Homo sapiens: one gene and its partner. The protein of the gene in region 1 interacts with the protein of each later gene in a biochemical or structural test. Each region holds a gene or a part of one and is shown on either strand. Other genes may lie near its edges. The genes, in order: TNFRSF10C and CXCL14.

What was found.
Region 2: the proteins of TNFRSF10C (region 1) and CXCL14 form a complex in vitro, tested with the Homo sapiens proteins (one large-scale study listed by BioGRID).

Annotation. Positions count from the first base shown.
Region 1 is NC_000008.11:23,109,095-23,112,920, reverse strand, and holds part of TNFRSF10C (tumor necrosis factor receptor superfamily member 10C precursor), read right to left. Parts: intron 1,202-3,826; coding exon 1,096-1,201; intron 1-1,095. UniProt on the Homo sapiens protein: Receptor for the cytotoxic ligand TRAIL. Lacks a cytoplasmic death domain and hence is not capable of inducing apoptosis. May protect cells against TRAIL mediated apoptosis by competing with TRAIL-R1 and R2 for binding to the ligand.
Region 2 is NC_000005.10:135,573,083-135,576,314, forward strand, and holds part of CXCL14 (C-X-C motif chemokine 14 precursor), read right to left. Parts: intron 1,604-3,232; coding exon 1,490-1,603; intron 1-1,489. UniProt on the Homo sapiens protein: Potent chemoattractant for neutrophils, and weaker for dendritic cells. Not chemotactic for T-cells, B-cells, monocytes, natural killer cells or granulocytes. Does not inhibit proliferation of myeloid progenitors in colony formation assays.

The DNA of each region.
Region 1 (3,826 bases):
ATTAGTACAGCCATTATGGAAAACAGTATGGAGGTTCCTCAAAAAACAAAAAATAGAACAACTATATGATCTAGCAATCCCACTATTGGGTATACATCCAAAGGAAATGACGTCAGTATATTGAAGAGATATCTTCCCTCCCATATGCATTGGAGCATTATTTACAATGGTCAAGACATGGAATCAACCTACGTGTCCATGGATGGATGAAAAGTTAAAGAAAATGTGACACATAGATACAATGGAATACTATTCAGCCTTTAAAAAGAAGGGAGTTCTGTCATTTGTGTCAGCATGGATGAAGCTGGAGGATACTATGCTAAGTGAAATAAGCCAGGCACAGAAAGGCAAACACCTCATGATCTCACATATGTGGAATCAGAAAAAGTTGGTCTCATAGAGGTGGAGAGCAGAATGGTGATTACCAGGGCTTGAGTTGGATGGTGGGATGGGGAGATGTTAGTCAAAGGATACAAAATTTCAGTTAGACAGGGAGAATAAATTCAAGAGATGTATTGTGTGACATGGCGACTACAGTTATTAAAACAATGTGTTGTACAGTCCTGCCTTCTATCCACAGGGAATATATTCCATGGAACAAACTCTGCATATACTCAAGTCCCTGATATAAATTGGGATAGTATTGCATAAAACCCACGCACATATGCTTTAAATCATCTCTAGATTACTTGTAATACCTAATGCAATAGACATGCTATGTAAATAAGTGCTATACTGCATTGCTTTTTATCTGCTTTTATTGATGTATTATCATTTTTATTTCTTCCGCATATTTTTGATCTGTGGTTTGTTGCAACCATGGATACAGAACCCATAGATAAGGAAGGCTACAGAACCCACAGATAAAAAGGGCAAAGAGGGCTTATCCCAGGGCTCTGTATCCATACAGCTGAAAATTGCTGAGCAGATTTTTAAGTGTTCTTACCACGAATACATGATTAAGTATGTGAATTAGCTTGATTTAGCCATTCCACAATGCGTACATATTTCAAAACATCATGGTGTACATCATAAATACATACAATGTTTATCTGTCAATTAAAAATAAACTGATTTTTAAAAATAAGAGTGCACCTGCTGGACACTCCTCCCCCTTGAAGCTGTGCCTCTGTTGCTGTGGGGCCACTGTCTGCTGGGGAACTTCCTCCTGCCGGGCAGTGGTGGCAGAGTAAGCTAGGACCTGTGGGGACAAAGGAGTGATGGGTGTGAGTGACTTCCAGACCTCACCCCTCCCAGGCTCCATCTCACATTCCCTTCACCCCAAGTGACAAAACCCATCAGAGCTTGGACATTTTTTCCAGCTCCAAACTTTCATTCTTTCATACCTGTGTTTGTCCCTTGGCCTGTTAGGGCCAGCTATTTTCTATAAAAAAAAAAAAAAATACAGGCAAGCGCGATGGCTCAAGCTTGTAATCCCAGCAATGTGGAAGTCTGAGGCAGGTGGATCACAAGGTCAAGAGATCGAGACCATCCTGGCCAACACGGTGAAACCCTGTCTCTACTAAAAATACAAAAATTAGCTGGGTGTGGTGGCACACACCTGTAATCCCAGCTACTCAGGAGGCTGAGGCAGGAGAATAGCTTGAACCTGAGAGGCAGAGGTTGCAGTGAGCCAAGATCGCGCCATTGCACTCCAATGTGGTGACAGTGCGAGACTCCATCTCAAATAAAAAAAAAAAAGAAAAAATGAAAAGAAAAAGAAAAACACTTATGTATCCTTTTCTCATATTATAACATAAATTTACCCCAGATAATGGGAGCAAGAAGAGCTATTTTGTTTTTTTGATACAGAGTCTTGCTATGTTGCCCAGGCTGGAATGCAGTGGCTATTCACAGGTGTGATCATATCTTACTATAGGCTTGAACTCCTGGCCTGAAGTGATCCTCCTGCTTCAGTCTCCCAAGAAATGTGGATAAGAGGCACATGCCACCATGGTTGGAAAGAAAAGATTTTATAAGAATTTTAAAAAACCACACACATATGAGCCCTTCATGCAGAAATAGCATTTAATATATTTAGTTTCACCAAGTGTTTAATTGACCAATAGGTGAATTCTGTCTCTCACTCACACACACACAAATACACACAGACACACACTTAAACATACTCAGCTTTACAAATGAAGGTTATAATATATATAACCTTACAGAAAGTCAGGATATAGCATCAAACATTAAGTAATTAATTACTGCTTTACAAAGGACCTTGTCAAGCTGCTCCCACTAAATATCAAAGAGTGACAAAAAAGATGAAACAGCAATTCAGGGATTCTGGCCATGATCTCTATGTTATAAATGACAACTAGAAGACAACTGGAGAAATCGGAATAGAGTGCGGATAGATAGTGGTAATGTGTTGATGTTAATTTCCTTGTTTGTAGAAAGTACACACTAAAGAATTCAATAATAGCTTTCATCATGCCAACAGCCATTTTTTCAAATGTTTTTATTGTATAGTTTTTGTAACTTTTCTTTAAGTTGGGAGTGTTTTAAAGTAGGAAATTAATTTAAGCAAAACCAAAATGGTTACAATGAAAGCTGCTTATGTTGGGCTCAGTTCAACTGCCTGGATCTAAACAAGACAAAATGTAGCTTTCTTCCACATCAAAGCCTGACTAGCAGTTGGTGACAGTGAAGCTAACCCACTTTTCCCAAATCATTCTTTCCCGGGTTGGAGTCCCTCTAGGTTCAGGCGATGTCTGCGTCTCCTTTCTCTGCTCTCACACTCTTACTCCCTCTCATTTAATGAGGGGTTTATTAGTGTTTTTTAAAATCCTTTCAGAAGACCAACTTTTCATTTTGTCTTTTTTTTTTTTTTTTTTTTTTTTTTGGAGACAGGGTCTCCCTCTGTCCTCCATGTTGGAGCGCAGAGTGCAGTGGTGTAATCTCGGTTCACTACAACCTTTGCCTCCTCTGCCTCCCAGGCTCAAGTGGTCCTGCCACCTCAGTCCCCAAAGACAGGTGTGTGCCACAACGCCCATCTAATTTTCACATATTTTGTAGAGCTGGGGTTTCGCCATGTTGCCCAGAGTGGTTTAACTCCTGAGCTCAAGTGATCTGCCTGCCTGGGCCTCCCAAAGTACTGGGATTACAGGCGTAAGCCACCGCACACAGTTGGTTTTCTCAGTTCTTTCTGTGGTTTGTATTCTTTGATTTATGCTCCTTCCTGTTACTTTGTTTGGTTTAAATTTACACTTATATTTTATGATTGATTAATGTAGCTCCTCAGGCCATAATTTTCTTTTTCTTTTTCTTTTTTTTTTTTGAGATGGAGTCTCGCTGTCTCCCAGGCCGGAGTGCAGTGGCACAATCTCGGCTCACTGCAAGCTCCACCTCCCAGGTTCATGCTATTCTCCTGCCTCAGCCTCCCAAGTAACTGGGACTACAGGTGCCCGCCACCACGCCTGGCTAATTTTTTGTATTTTTAGTAGAGACAGGGTTTCACCGTGTTAGCCAGGATGGTCTCGATTTTCTGACCTCGTGATCCACCCTCCTCGGCCTCCCAAAGTGCTGGAATTACAGATGTGAGCCACCGTGCCCGGCCCATAATTTTCACGTTTTTTCTTTTTTTGACAGCTTTAGTGAGACACAATTCACATAATTAATAATTATGATTATTCATATAATTCACCCATTTAAAGTCCACACTTCAGCAGTTTTTAATATACTCATAGCTATGCAATCATCACTATAATCAATTTTAGAATATTTTTATCACTCCAGAAAGGAACTACATACCCTTCAGCAGTAACTCCCCATCTCCCTAACCCCCAGTTTTTTAATACAAACATTGAAAGCTGTATAT
Region 2 (3,232 bases), on another chromosome or scaffold:
CTTTTCCAGGCTGCAGCTCAGGTGGAGGGGAGAAGCAAGGTGAGCTAAAGGTTTGAGTATCCCCCAGCAATCAGATCAAGATGCCCTCAGCCTCTTCCATAACCTGCCCATGGGATTAGCCTTCTGCCAGTTTTGATGACACAGGGCCTGGAGGGTGACAGAGTGTGGACTGCGCAGTTCTGGCCTTTGCCACATGAGCTGCCTGGCTTGACCAGAAAGAGGGCTTCATTCCCAGCAGATTTATAGAAAATAATTTATTGCTCTCATCACTTTCTATTTCAAGCAACTGCAGATGAGGCTGTTTTGGAGGCAGCAAAAAAGGCTCAGGTATAGGGGTTGAGCCCGAGTGTCAGCTCTGGGAGAGCTGGTCACAGGGCTGAGCTTGGGGTAGCATGGCTGGGCCAGGTGAGGGGAGGGCAATGCAGGCACCCACTATGGCTGTACCTTCCACCCTGTGAGGGCAGCTGGTGGGGTAGCACCAGGAGGCCTGGTTTGCTGTCCTGGCTTTGCCCTGTGCTCCCAGGCAAGTCACCCCTCTCTTCCATTTAGCCTTGATATCCCCCTCTGCAGCAGGGGTGCTGGCACTAGTTCCTGGGGAAGTCACCTGCATGGTGTGTGCATGCATGCGTGTGTGTGTGTGTGTGTGTGTGTGTGTGTGTGCTTCCTGATCATGCTATGCAGGCAAATGTGTAAACAGACTCTGCGTATCTGAGGAGTGAGACAGGACAGGCTACCTTCGCATGGTACAGGGGAGCTAGGAACTGGATTCTCCCTCCGAGGACAGACATAAGACCCCAGGAAACCAGAGATGGGAAGCCACCTTCTGATTTTAAGGAAACAGTGCCCAGTAAGTACAGGGCTGGTTCAGGGTGCTGGTGGTCTTAACACTGCTGCCCGCCTTGGTTAACAGTGGCTCTGATTTTAAAGAGCCAAACCTGTGGTGCCTTCCAGCACCTGCGAAGGAAGGAGTTTATCAGGTTTCTGGGCAGCAGAGGGAGTGGGGCACCTTGGAGAAGAAAACATGTTTCTGGCAAGGATCATCCTCAGCACCTCATGGTTTTATAGCGCAGTTTTATAGCCAACATACACAGTCACCTAAGTGGTCACATTTCACCCCACTGAAGTCCTCAGAGCTCCCCTGGCAGCCATGCCAGTGCTCACTCTGCCATTTAACAACTTACGTAACTGAAATAAAAAGAGGAATTAAGATTATAATGCAAATATTAGAGTGAGACAGACTTTAGTTTACAAAATGACAAACCTGCCATGCTTGCAAATGGACAAGAGATGGATAGCTAGCTTTGGTAAGTGGTGAGTTCCTTGTCCCTGGGGGTATGTAAGCATTGTCTGAGTATCTGTTTGCTGTGGATGTTGTGGTGGGTGTTCACATATTAGATGGGGCTAGATGACCTGGTGGGGGGGTCCCTTCCCATCCTGAGAGCCACAGCTGGGTCTGGTGGGAAGGAAGGTGAGTAGAGGCGGGGCGTACCTGCGCTTCTCGTTCCAGGCGTTGTACCACTTGATGAAGCGCTTGGTGCTCTGCAGCTTGGGGTGCAGGCAGTGCTCCTGACCTCGGTACCTGGACACGCTCTTGGTGGTGATGCTGAAACGGAGCAGGATGAGGTGGAGGGTTGAGGAGCCTGAATAACATGTTGCCTCTTGTGTGGCCTGTGAGTAGCCCTGGGCTAAGTCAGGGCCCTGAGAGACTGTGGCTTCCTGCCTCCTCTCAAGGGAGCCGACTTGTGTGCTCACTTCCAAGCTGGCTCTTTGGAAGGTTCTGGTTGTCCCCTTATTCTCTGACTCCATGTTAGGGCCTAACCCTGTATGTAGTGAGCAGCCCTCACTTTTCCCCTGGGAGTCCTGAGAGTCTGGGATGGTCTCTCCCACCCCCAACCTCATGCAGTGTGTTGTCTCCAGGGCTCAGGCCTCTTTTGGGGAACAAAGGTCAGAGGACTCCCAGCCTCTCTGAGCCTGGGATCAGGAGGTGGAGAAAGCTAATGCCAGCAAGGTGCACATGCCAAAACCTCTGTCCTTGGATTTGAGGAGCTCATGGCAAGGCTCAGACATGCCCCGCAGACACTCTGATTTCTGTCTCCTCAACCCCAGTTCCCTCTGACCCACCACAGATTGTCCCAGGGCTGGGCATCTCCTGATCCTGAGGCAAAGTCTTGTTGGCCTTGTGGGAGGTCCCAGGTATCTCACCCCTAAGCAGAAGAGTAAGACCTCTCTTCTGCACAGCCTGAAGATCTCAGGCCTCTATCAGCCAATGTCCCAACACCCAGCAGAAGCCTAGCCATGTGGTAGAGAAGCAGGTGTTGTGCAGACTGTAAGGGCCTGGGACTGAATCTCAAATTTGGCTGTGGGACCTTGGGTAACCTCTCTGAATCCAGTTTGGCCATCTGTAAAATGGGTATAATAATAGGACTATCTCACAGGGTTATTGGGATGATTAAAAGATACAATCTTTAGAAAGTACCCAGGACCTGGTAGATGCACAATTAACAGTTACTGTTACTAGTCATTGGTCATGGAAGATGAAGTGGCCAAGGGGAAAGAGTAGCCTTGCTGTGGGGGCTCCAGCCTGGAGGGCGAGGCAAGCCTGCTGCTCAGAACTTCTGAGCACCTCTAGGCCACAGGCATGACAGGAGTTGTGGGGAATAAGAGACCACCTAGGGTATTTGGAAAAGTGCAAGGTGAGAGGTGAGGATGCCACTTCTTGAGGGGTCACAGCCATGCAAGCCATGATGGTAGACTGGGGTGCTGGAATGGGCTTGGAGGGCAAAGGGGGAGACTGGAAGTGAGAGTGGAAAGAGTGAGAAGAGAGGGACAGAGGTCAGCTAGTTCCCCACTGTTAACCAAATGGAAAATGTCATGGCTTATATGGGCTAAGTTCTAGAAGGGACAGGATTCCCATTACTTCAGTCTCCCAGTTGATGGGGAAAGAAAATCGGATCTTGCCACCAGAATGGGGGCATAATGTTCCTAGGCAACCTGTTCTCTTCCCTTCTCCGTGCTCTGGGTTTCTGGGGTCCCTGCTAGGGCCTAAGCTCCTTGGGGCAGGGGCGGGTCTTCCTGCTGATGCCAGGTGATGGTGCCTGCCTTGACTGGACTCCTCTGTGACTCCGGGTCATTCCTCTAGCCTTGAGCACAGGCCAGGCTTCAGAGTGAACTCTGGTTGTCTCTCTCCCCCACTGTGCCCAGTCACCCTGCAGGAATTTAGCAAATGCTTTTC